Linked DNA regions of Homo sapiens: region 1 is linked to region 2. The links come from fine-mapping of genetic effects on gene expression. A gene starts in region 2. The other region holds a variant in brackets. All regions are shown on one strand. Distances are between the middles of the regions.

Region 1 (5,380 bases), 36 kb before region 2:
GAAACGTAAAAACACCTTCAGATAAGGAAGAGGAACAGGCTATGACCTAATGCTTGCTTGGACCAGTATAAGCATTGCCAGGGCAAATAGGCTAAATTGTGGGAGCTAAGAACATAAAGTACATTGATTTCTTTATTACGGCTAGCAGATATTTAAGAATGTTAGCACAGGTCTTTGAATAAGTTTTGCTCCTAAGAGAAGTTACTATTTATTCTTAATTAGACAGGGAGGAAAGTCTTTGAAGAGGAACCTCACTTTACTTTTTACACCCCTAAGAACCATGATGATAGACTGCAAAAAAGCATCCCATCAACCATCACTTTTTCCAGGAAATGGCTGGCCACAGAAAACTCTCCGCCCCTTTCCTCTTTTGAAATGGTCCCAGACTGCTCACCTGCCTCCTTGAAGCTAATCAAGTCAAATGTACTTGAAGACCACTTTGTCTCTTGGCTTGCTTCCACAAATCCTACCCTTATATGACATTTGCCAAGTCAACACTGTCAGTATTTCTCCTTTTTACTCTATAACGTCTTAACACCTCTGAACACTTACCAAAACAAAGGTTTCAGCAGAAGGGTTCCCCTGCTGCACGTTTATGAATAAATAGCCTTTGTCGATTTTATCTTGGACTTAGTTTTGTCTCTGACACATGTGGAATGGATGTCTGTTAGAATTCTGCCCTTGCCACACCTCTTGCTTCCTGGATAAATGTGGGTTCACTTGGGTTGATGACCTTGGGCTACACTGGCTTCTTCAGAACCCCTGAGAAGCGTGTAGGGATTCTCATTCAGACCTCTAGAATTGAGTGAATCAGTGAAGGGCAGCTGACACCAAAAATGCATTAAAATGTCAAGGCCGGCAGCCCTCTAGCTTCTGGCTGGAGTGTGTGATGATTTCGTCTGAATTCCCTGAGTTCAAGGCATGCAGTGGGCACATCGACTATGGGCCCATCAGAGGCTGAGTTTGCAGCAGCAGCTGTCCTGTACAGCATGCAGCAAAACGGCTGTCAGCTCTTATTAGGAAGGTAGAAACATGCCAGTGGGTATGTATGCAGGACTAGTGTATCCTTGGATGTGCCTGTTACTGACCACTGTGGTTCTGTTTAACATTAATTTGTATATTTCTCAAAGCATCACATGCCCAAGATTTAGGCAAGTAAATTCAGTTAACCACAGAGTATACTTTTATGCCTTTCCTGTGATAACACCATTCTAGATGCTAAGAGTGAATGTAGGATAGGACAGAAAAGTGCTGCTGGCAAGGACCTTACATTCATGCCAGTGAAGGAGACCCAAAACAGATGGGCAAATAATGCCAGCCGTCTGGAAGCAATGGAGTGAAGTGGCCAAGTGAAGTCCTGGAGGAAAATTGTTCTAGGCTAAGTCCCTGAAGGGTGGTGAGTTTGGGGTGCTGGGGAAACAGCAGTATGACCTTTAGAGACAGAGCAAAGGTGTGAGGGACAGAGTTAGGCAGGGGCCAGGTGAGGCAGGCTATTACAATGTAAGTCTAGTGAGCAGTGGATTCCAGCAGGAGAATTATGTCTATTTGTTTTGGGGAGAGTGTTTTGAGACAAGGTCTGATCTGTCACCCAGGTTGGAGTGCAGTGGTGTAATCACAGCTCACGGCAACCTCAACCTCCCAGGCTCAAGCGATCCTCCCACCTTAGCCTCCCGAGTAGCACATGCCACTGTGTCGAGCCGTTTGTTTTTTTAAAATCCTCTGGAAACTGGGAAATTGACTGAAAGGTAGTATTCCTCCAAGCCCTTGAATCTAGGCTGGCCTTGTGACTACTTTGATCATTACAAGGCAGTGGGAAAGGATGTTCTGGGACTTCAAGCCCAGGCCTCAATAGGACTGCCAGCTTCTACTTCCTTCTCAGAACACTAGCTCTGAGCCCAAGCTACATGGAGAGGCCATCGTCCTAGCTGAGAACCTAGCCAGCTGCCACCATGTGAATGAACCACGGTGAACACTCAGCCCATTCAAGCCCACAAATGCCCACAGCTCCAGCCACATCACATGAATAGAGGAACCACCCCACTCAGCCCAGGAAAACCAGAGTTGTGAGACTGAATCACTTGGTTTTGAAGTTTATTTCACAGCAATAGATAAGTGAAACAAGGGCAAGAGTGGTGGATGGATGCAGGACACAAGCCAGCTTTGGGGTTCATTTAGGCCAGAAAGGATGGAGGCCTGGAGCAGACTGGCGGAAGTGAAGATAGTGAATCGTCAGATTCAGGACGCACTTGATGGGTGCAGCTTTCAAGCTGGATGAGAAGGGAAAGAAGTAGAATAGAAAAGCAGCAAGTCTCTGCCTGGCTTTCTCCAGACGACTCCTTAGAGCTTTAGACCCCCCGCTCTCTTTGATAACTACCACCATCCTGCACGAACCAGTTGCTTATACTGGCTTATATTGTGATCGTGTTTTGTTTTTTGTTTTTTGTTTTTTTTTTTGCTCTTTAAGTAAAAAATAAGGTTAAATCTTTGAGAAGTCCTTCTTAAGCAACAAAACCTCAGAGACACAAAGGAAATTATTAATAGATGTAACCACTTAAAAATAAAAAATGAAACTTCTCTATCATAAAAACATGCCATAAACAAAGCTAAAAGATGATGAGCTATAATGGAGAGAAAATATTTGCAAAATATAACAAAAAATCTCATACACTAACTATATAAGCAATTCTAAAGAAAAAGGTAGCCAAATAGAGACTAGCATTAAGCTGCTCTAGGAATTTCACATTATATTACCATATCTTGACGTATGAGTTTTA[G/C]ACGTGTCATGTGGCCCCTCGGCCTCCAGTAGATATGCCCAGGCTTCTCACAGCATGGTGGTCTCAAGGTTCCAAGAAGGTGAGGAGAAACTTCAAGGCCTCTTAAAGCTTCAGCTGCAGAACTCACATAATGTCACTTCTTCCATGTATTGGTCAAAACAAGTCACCAGGCCAGCCCAGGCCCAAGGGTAAAGAAATAGACTCCCTCTCTCACTAGGAGAAACAGCAAATTTCTCATTGCAAAGTGGTGCGGATACAGGGAGGTGTGGTTCACTGGGACCATTATTATAGCACTCCCACGCAATGGCTAAAAATGCCTTTCTTCTACCCTCATGATTGATAGCTTAGCTGGGAATATTATTTTGTATTGATAATTATTTTCTCTGAGGATGAAAGCATTGCTGCACTCTCTTGGAGCTTCCAGTGTTGTTGAGAAGGGTAATGTCATTTTGATTCCTGTTCCTTTATGTGTGATCTCATATTCCTTTCTGAAATCTTTCAGGATCTGATTTATCTATGGTATGATGAAATGTCGTAACACGGCCTTGTGTGAGTCTTCTTTTTTTCTTTTCTCCCCTCCTTTTCCTCCTGTTTTTTGTTTACTATGTTAAGCATTTGGAAGGTCATTTTAATCTGGATACACATGTCCTTCAGTTTGGAAGGTTTCTGATATTTCTTTGATAGGTATATTTTCCACAAACATATTTTCTCCCAAAACATATCAGAAGAGTGGTATTATTTTACATTTTTAAACATTTACGCTTGGCTTAATAGAATGAGTTCTCACATCTACTTCTGCATTCAATCTTGCAATATGTTGTTTTGGTTGAAATCTATGAAGAAATTACAACTAAGCACATTTTTAAGGACGCTTGTGTCTGAACAGATAGTAATACAGAAACCAACATAACGAGAAATACCTGGCATCTCTTTATCTGAGGACTTTGCTAAATGGGAAATATTTAGTCATCTTCTTGAAAAGAATTTATCCAAACTTGCATTGGTAGAAAACAAAACTGGCTTTGTTTCCCTGTATAAAAACCACTTAGCACTTCATTTGTATATTCAAATGTAGTTTGTGAAGAGAGCAATCAGAGAAATCATGTATCCAATTTGTAAATACAATTAACCAAGAGAATATACAGGTCAGATCGCCCTTCAACTGGTCTCACAATTGCCATCACAAACTGAGTCAGCTGGCCAAAGTGATGGGGAGACATTCTGAGAAATGTGTCATTAGGAGATTTCACCATTGTGTGAACATCATAGAGTATACTTACACAAATCTGTATAGTATAGCCTACCTACCACACACCTAGGCTATACGGTACAACCTGTAGCTCCTAGGCTACAAAACTATACAGCAGGTTTGTACAGTGACTGTTGAATACTACAGGCAATTGGAATACAGTGGTAAGGATTTGTGTATCTGAACAGATCTAAACATAGAAAAGGTCATGTGTCACTACATGACGTTATGCCAGTTGGCAATAGGAATTTTTGAGCTTCATTATGGTTTTATGGGACCACTGCTGTGTATGCAGCCCACCACTGATGAGAACATCATACGCAGTGCGTGACTGTACTTCGACCACCAGGGGTACAAGTGCATGGACTGGACAGAAGGAAAACCTCAGAGAACCTGAGGATGTGGATAAGACTGTTTAGTGAGGTTCTCAACTCATCACAAGCTACCAGGTATTCGGCATGGAGGGGTGGTGACAGTTATGCAGGACATTGACATATGATGATACAGTGGTCATTCTTACATAAAATGAAGAAGACTGTCCAGTAAATTCTATGAGTTTGCAGTAGATGGATCATCAAAGGATATGGGTAATCTTGTAGTAACAGGACTATGTTACTAGGAATTTCACTAGTCCTGTTACTAATTCATAGGCCATGGAGCAATATAAGACCAAGGTTACAAACCCCTAAAATTGTCTGGAAAGAGAATGACTTTTTTATGTACTTTGGTCTGAGCATGTGATTCATAAGTATATGACAGCAGATCAATTCAGATACATCCAGAAGAAGCCATCCTTTATTCTGAAATGTCCTAACCATACCTGAAATAAATACTAAGTGATGCACCAGAATTTTCCTCCCTGGGATCAATGAGCAGTAGCATTGAGAGCAGAAACGGCAGCCGTGGTAACAGGAGCTGCTGTGGTCAGTAGGCTCTCAGGGTCTGTCAGGCAAGAGCATAGGATAGTGACAATTCAAATGAAAGCAAAAACAAACATAAAAAGGAATGAACTACTGAAATGCCAACAATATGGATGAATCTCACAGATATTATAATAAGTAAAAGGAACCAGACTTTTTTTTTTTTTTGAGACGGAAGCTCACTCTGTCACCAGGCTGGAGCGCTGTGGCGCGATCTCGGCTCATTGCAACCTCCGACTCCCTGGTTCAAGCGATTCTCCTGCCTCAGCCTCCTGAGTAGCTGGGATTACAGGCATGTGCCACCATGCCCAGCTAATTTTTGTATTTTTAGTAGAGATGGAGTTTCACCATGTTGGCCAGGATGGTCTCGATCTCCTGACCTTGTGATCCACCCACCTTGGCCTCCAAAAGTGCTGGGATTACAGGCGTGAGCCACC
Region 2 (5,380 bases):
TCATGACAATTCCACCACCATCACTTCCCACCTGGGCTCCTGCTCCCACTCCTGCCCTGTAGCCCATCCTCCAAACATCAGCCAGAGGAGGCCTGTCAAAATAACCCTTGGACCTTGGCACTCTGCTGCTACAAATCCCCCAGTGGCTCCCATCTCACTACAGTAAATGCCAAAGTCCTCACCATGACCTCCAGGCCCTCCAGGATCTGGCCCCTCTCACTTCTCCAGCTTCCTCCCCACTACTCCTCCTTACTCCCTCTCTGCACAACTGGCTTCTCACTGGCAGATGTCCTCTAAACACAACACCAACTCCCACCTGAGAGGCTCTGCAATGGCCGTGCCCACCCCATTAGGCCTTTCCTCAAATGTCACCCCACCCAGCCAGCAAGGCTTCTGAACCTCCTGACATGACCCTCCGTCCTGCTCTTTCTCTCCAGTGCCTCCCACCATCTAACACAGCACACAGAGTCACAAAGCCTATTTATCCAGCTCTTCCCCCAAAGAAAGTACATTTGGGGACCAAGTCTTCTTTCCTTCACTGCTGATACCTAGAACAGTACTCAGACTTAGCAGGTGCTGAGTAAGTAAGCGCTGAAACAATGAATAAACAGCTAACTTTTACTGAATGCCTATTATGTGCTAGGTGCTGTGCTAAATGCTTTCCATATACACCTTAACTCTTTTTAAAAATCTTTCAGTCTCCAGACAACTGTGATGCAACTATTGTTATCCAGATTACAAAGGAAGAAATGACATTCAAAGGGGATTTGCCTATGCTGTGCTCTCACAAGTCAGAAGCAGTCAGTCTGAACCCTGCCCTGCCTGGGCCTGGGTTCAGGCGTGTCTGCTTGAGGAAGTCACAGCTTTTCCCCAGCAGGCAGTGCAGCACTGAGAGGAGGAGTGGGGGTACATGCTGGTGGCCTAGCAACAGCTTCTTCTATTCCGACTCACCACATCCCTGGGCTAATTTGGCCTTCCAGGAGCTATTCCTCTGACACTCTAACCCACGCTTCCCTCCCGCGCACTGTCTTGTAAAGGACGGATGAGCTGTCCACAGGAACGAGTGGGAGTTCCATCACTTCAGCTCTTTGGAACAAAGTGTTCCAAAGAGTGTTCTCACTCTAAGTTCAAAGATGGGGGCTGAAGTCCCCTTGTCAGCCCTGCTGATCTCCGAAGCCCAGCTATTGGTTTGTTGTGGGTGTTGTTATTGCTTATATCAAAAAGTACAGAAGCTCAGGGATGGAAATCTGGAAAGGGCTGTGGGAGAGGAAAATTCCTCTGAGAGAGAGGGGTTAGGTGGGTTCTTTTCCTTTCGGAGGAACCAATTACTTGTGGGAAGCCATCAGCACAGAACTGAGCAAACTTCCACTGTCAGATTATAGGAGCCAGGCAGCCTTTCAACCTAACTCGTTAGGGCCATGGTTTCTCTCCTTTTCCAGGCCCAGGTTATTCTTCGAAAGACTTTCTACTTATTGACTGCAAACACAGACAGGCATGGGAAGAAAGACTGTATATTTAGGATATCAGGCTTTCTCTTCTCTCTGTGCCTGCTTTTCCACTCCTTTCAGAAATAGTAATGGGATGCCTGTTGTGTGCCAGGCACTGTGCTCAGCACTGGGGGTTAACAAATGAGTGACATTTCCTGACCAGTGAGGGAGATGAGCAAACAAACACAGCACAGTGGAAATCCAACCTAGGAAATGCAGAAGGCCTTGCTCATAGTAGGTGATTAACAAACACTTGTGGAATATATGATGAAGAGGCAAATACAAGAAATGCTGTCGTCTAGAGAAGGGAGGCTTGCCAATCTCCATGCGTACAGGTGGGGGAAAGCTTTAAATTGGAGGAAAAAGAGTTCACAACAAGGAAAAGAGAGAAGGCATGAATGACTCTTAAGACAGAGGGAATAGCACCTGCAAAAGCATGGAGGCATGAACTAGCAGGCTGACTTTTAGGACTCAACCTAAAGTAGTCTGGAATAAATGAACTTCATGATAAGTGTGGAGAAGAATGAGATGGTGAGAATGGAAACATTACCAGAAGTCAGGTCACAGAGATTTGAGGGCAAGAAGTAGGTATGGCTTCAGAAGGGAAAGGGAGGAGCTGAGGATAACTCCCAGATTTCTGACATAGCCCATGGGTGGATTCAGTGAGACCGCTGGGGAGGCGCGGCACAGCTGGGGAAAATCACGAGTCCAGTTTGGATAATCTGCGAGGTAAACGGGATCCAGAAGGCAACTGGACTCTCAGGCCTGGGCCTCCCTGTCCCTGGAATAGCACACTCTCTTCCCACTTGAACATCCATCCTACACGGCCCAGTCAGGGTCTTCTTCCTTCCTCCAGGAGACCTTCCTGATTGCCCTAGCCTTCCTCCTATACGCCACATCCAACTGCCTGAGTCCCTCATAACAGGCTTTCGGTCTGATTTTGCTGTGGGAATTGATTTGCCCGGCCAAGCCAAGAACCCTTCCCTAGGCAGCAGAAGCCCAGTCACTCAGTCACTGGTGGGTGGGACGCGGGGTGAATCTGCGTAGGGTGGGGCGGGGCATTTTTAGCTCAACACTGGGTCAGAAGTCACGGCCAGACAAGAAACGGGTGAGAAACGGGGGAGGAAGGGTGACGTCACAATTGGTAGGAAATACCTTGGGACTTGACGCTTTCGAAACCAAAGGGAGAGCAAAAGCAGCCGGGAGCGCGCGGGCCGACCTGGTTCTCCTCCCTTCCCACGGCTGCCTTAGTACAGAATCTTATAAGTCCTCCTCCTTCAGAGGCTACAAATGGTGTTCCGAGGCCAGGGGAGTTTAAAGCTCGATTTCACCCGCGCAGCCTCCAATCCGGTAAAGAGGGGCCGCGGAGCCCGACCAAGTCTTCCTATGCCTTACTCTGCTGCTTTACCTGATCTATTTTTGTGGATGCCGGCGCCAGCTACGGGCGCCCGGAGAAAGCACGAGGCCGGGTGGACTCTGGTAACGCAAGCGGCAAGGAGGCCGCCATGTTCCACTCTGCAGCCGCTAGGGATCGTGGGAGTCACCCCTAACCGCGCCCGGGCCTGGGTGGGCGAAACGCATGCGCTCTAGAAGTTGCTGAGTCGCTTGGCGGTGTTTCTGCGCAGGCGCCGTAGCCCATAGCAACCGCCGTAACCTGTAGCAACCGGAAGATGTCGCTTCCGGCTGGTTTGGGGCTAAGAAAGGGGTTATAGTCATTTCGAGATCATAGAACGATGTGACAGATAGGAAACTGAGGCTGGGTTGGAGGCAGGCCCTAGGGACCGTTGCGTTGGACCTCGCTCCTGTGGCGCGGTGGATGGAGTTTGTGGCTTGTGGCTCCTATTTCCCAAAGCAGGAAATTGAGACAGAGGGAAGGCACAGGTTCGTCCTGAGGCTGCAGCCCAGGTGATGGTTCCCCGGGTAAAAAATCAATATGATGCCCTTTGTTTATAAGGAGAAGGCAGGGACATGAAAGTAATTTCTAATAAAAGAATATGCATTTCACTTTGTAAAAGCTGAGGCTGGCTTACACCCGATCACGCTTGTACCCAACTTAGGAATCAGCTTAGGTTTACTAGAAGACAATATTCAGCTGAATTTTGCCAACAGTTTATATCTGACATCTTGAGTCAAAGGCTAAATATATTTATATAAAAGCGCGGAGTCACTGTGACAGCTACACATGTACACAGACGTGAGCATGCTGTTCGGGTGACTCACCCGTGGGGAGCAGGGTGGGCAGCGATTTTCCAGAATGGTGAGCAAAGTGTAACTCCCCACAACCAACCTGATATATGCATTTCCAGACAGTCTAGTGTGTACTAAAACTAGGGAAAAATTCATTGTGATTGTATGTACAACCAATTATAACGGATTTTTGGCTTACTTGAAAGTTTGGCAGGATATCTGAAAGTTGTGCGGGACAGGACCATTTGTTATGGTGACTGTAATGGACTGTCCCATCCATTACAGGAGTTTCATATCCCTGCCCCCCCCACCCCCGACAGGGATATGACTGTCCCCTCAGTCTCGTGACACCCAAAAATGCCCACATAAATTTCCAATCTGTTCCTTGGAAAACCACTGATTTATTCAGTCAAATAATTTTTGCTAGCATATGTGTGCTGGGCAGTGCCGTGGCGGGGAAGGATCGTGTGTGAACGGGACAGAGCTCCTGCCCTTATGAGTGAGGTCCAGTGTAAGAAAATACCCAGATATTAATCACATAATTTGATAAATAGCTTGGCAACAGGGGCAGTACAGGTCAGGGGTGGAATACATGGGAAGACCCAGCCAGGCAGCCTGGGTATCATGCAGTCTGGAAAAGCCAAGCAGAGAAGTAGCATCTGAACTGAGCCTCGAAGGAGCATCACACCAAGGAGGATGATGTGCACAGCAGAGGGACCAGCACGTCTGGCACACAGTGGACACTCAAATGTTTTGAATGATTGAACGAAACACAGCATGTTCGCTGGCAGGGAACCATTCCCCATTATATTGTGAGCTGCTACAAGGCAGGGGATACAGTATGCCTTTCCTATCCCCAGGTTTCACATCCATGGATCCAACCAACTGTAGACAGAAAATATTTAAAAATAAAAATTAAAAAAAACAACAAAAATTCAAATAAAAATAAAATATAACTTTGTTTAGCATTTACATTGCATTAGGTATTGTAAGTAATCTAGAGATGATTTAAAGTATACAGAAGAATGTGCATAAGTTATATGCAAATATTATGCCACTTTATGTAAGGGACATAAGCAGCTGTGGATGTTGGTATCCGAGGGATGGGGAGTGAGGGGCATTGTCCTGGAACCTACCCCAAGGAACGACTGTACCTGTTTTCTCACTTCCCCGCATCCCAGCACTAAGATGGGATCCAGAGAAGGTGGCAGTGGTGAAAGGATCTCAGACACAGAAAAAGGGTTATGTGATCTGGCCCGGGAGTGATTTCCAGGAAATGGATCTCTGACTCCCTGCTCTCCCAGGGGACAGCTGACAAAAATATAAGTGCTCTACTGGTTAAATGTTAGGAAAATCAGGGCAGGAGTGGCTGCTTATTTTCGCATCTGCTGTTCATGCGTGGTCCTGGTGGCAGGTCATGTTTTGGCAGATGATAGCTGCTCAGGACTGTCCCAAGATTAAAAATCTCATAGTGTGTGTACACAGTGGGGAAGGCTATAAGCAAAGGGGTCTCTTCCCCCAGGTGGTCTAAAGGAAGTCAGAGCCAGACTCCCTCCCCTCCCAGGAAATTCCTGTCCTGTTGGGATGGTCATTTCTACCCCAAAGGCCAGGCTAGGGCAGGGTCTGGAACTGGCTGCCTCCAGGAACCAAGCAGGCAACGTAAATCAGTGAAGGGCTGATGGGTACTTGCGGAAACAGGAAAGCAC

What was found. PIP is the estimated chance that this variant, and not a neighbour inherited with it, causes the effect.
Region 1: its variant is fine-mapped to the expression of SDCBP2-AS1 in whole blood (TOPMed, PIP above 0.99).

What each region holds. Positions count from the first base shown.
Region 1 is chr20:1,359,284-1,364,663 of GRCh38, reverse strand. The region is part of intron 2 of FKBP1A-SDCBP2 (FKBP1A-SDCBP2 readthrough (NMD candidate)); the gene reads left to right. All of the region lies in intron 1 of SDCBP2-AS1 (SDCBP2 antisense RNA 1), which reads right to left. Among named protein-coding and RNA genes, the nearest start is that of MIR6869, 31 kb to the left of the region's middle. The variant G/C (reference allele first, on the strand shown) is at 2,775.
Region 2 is chr20:1,323,045-1,328,424 of GRCh38, reverse strand. It overlaps SDCBP2-AS1 (SDCBP2 antisense RNA 1), which reads right to left and starts at 3,082. Exons shown (of 3, transcript NR_040049.1): 1 at 2,896-3,082. All of the region lies in intron 1 of SDCBP2 (syndecan binding protein 2), which reads left to right. The region is part of intron 2 of FKBP1A-SDCBP2 (FKBP1A-SDCBP2 readthrough (NMD candidate)); the gene reads left to right. It overlaps LOC124904856 (a long non-coding RNA gene), which reads right to left. Exons shown (of 2, transcript XR_007067487.1): 2 at 4,056-4,559. RefSeq lists enhancers at 2,506-2,800, 2,791-3,020.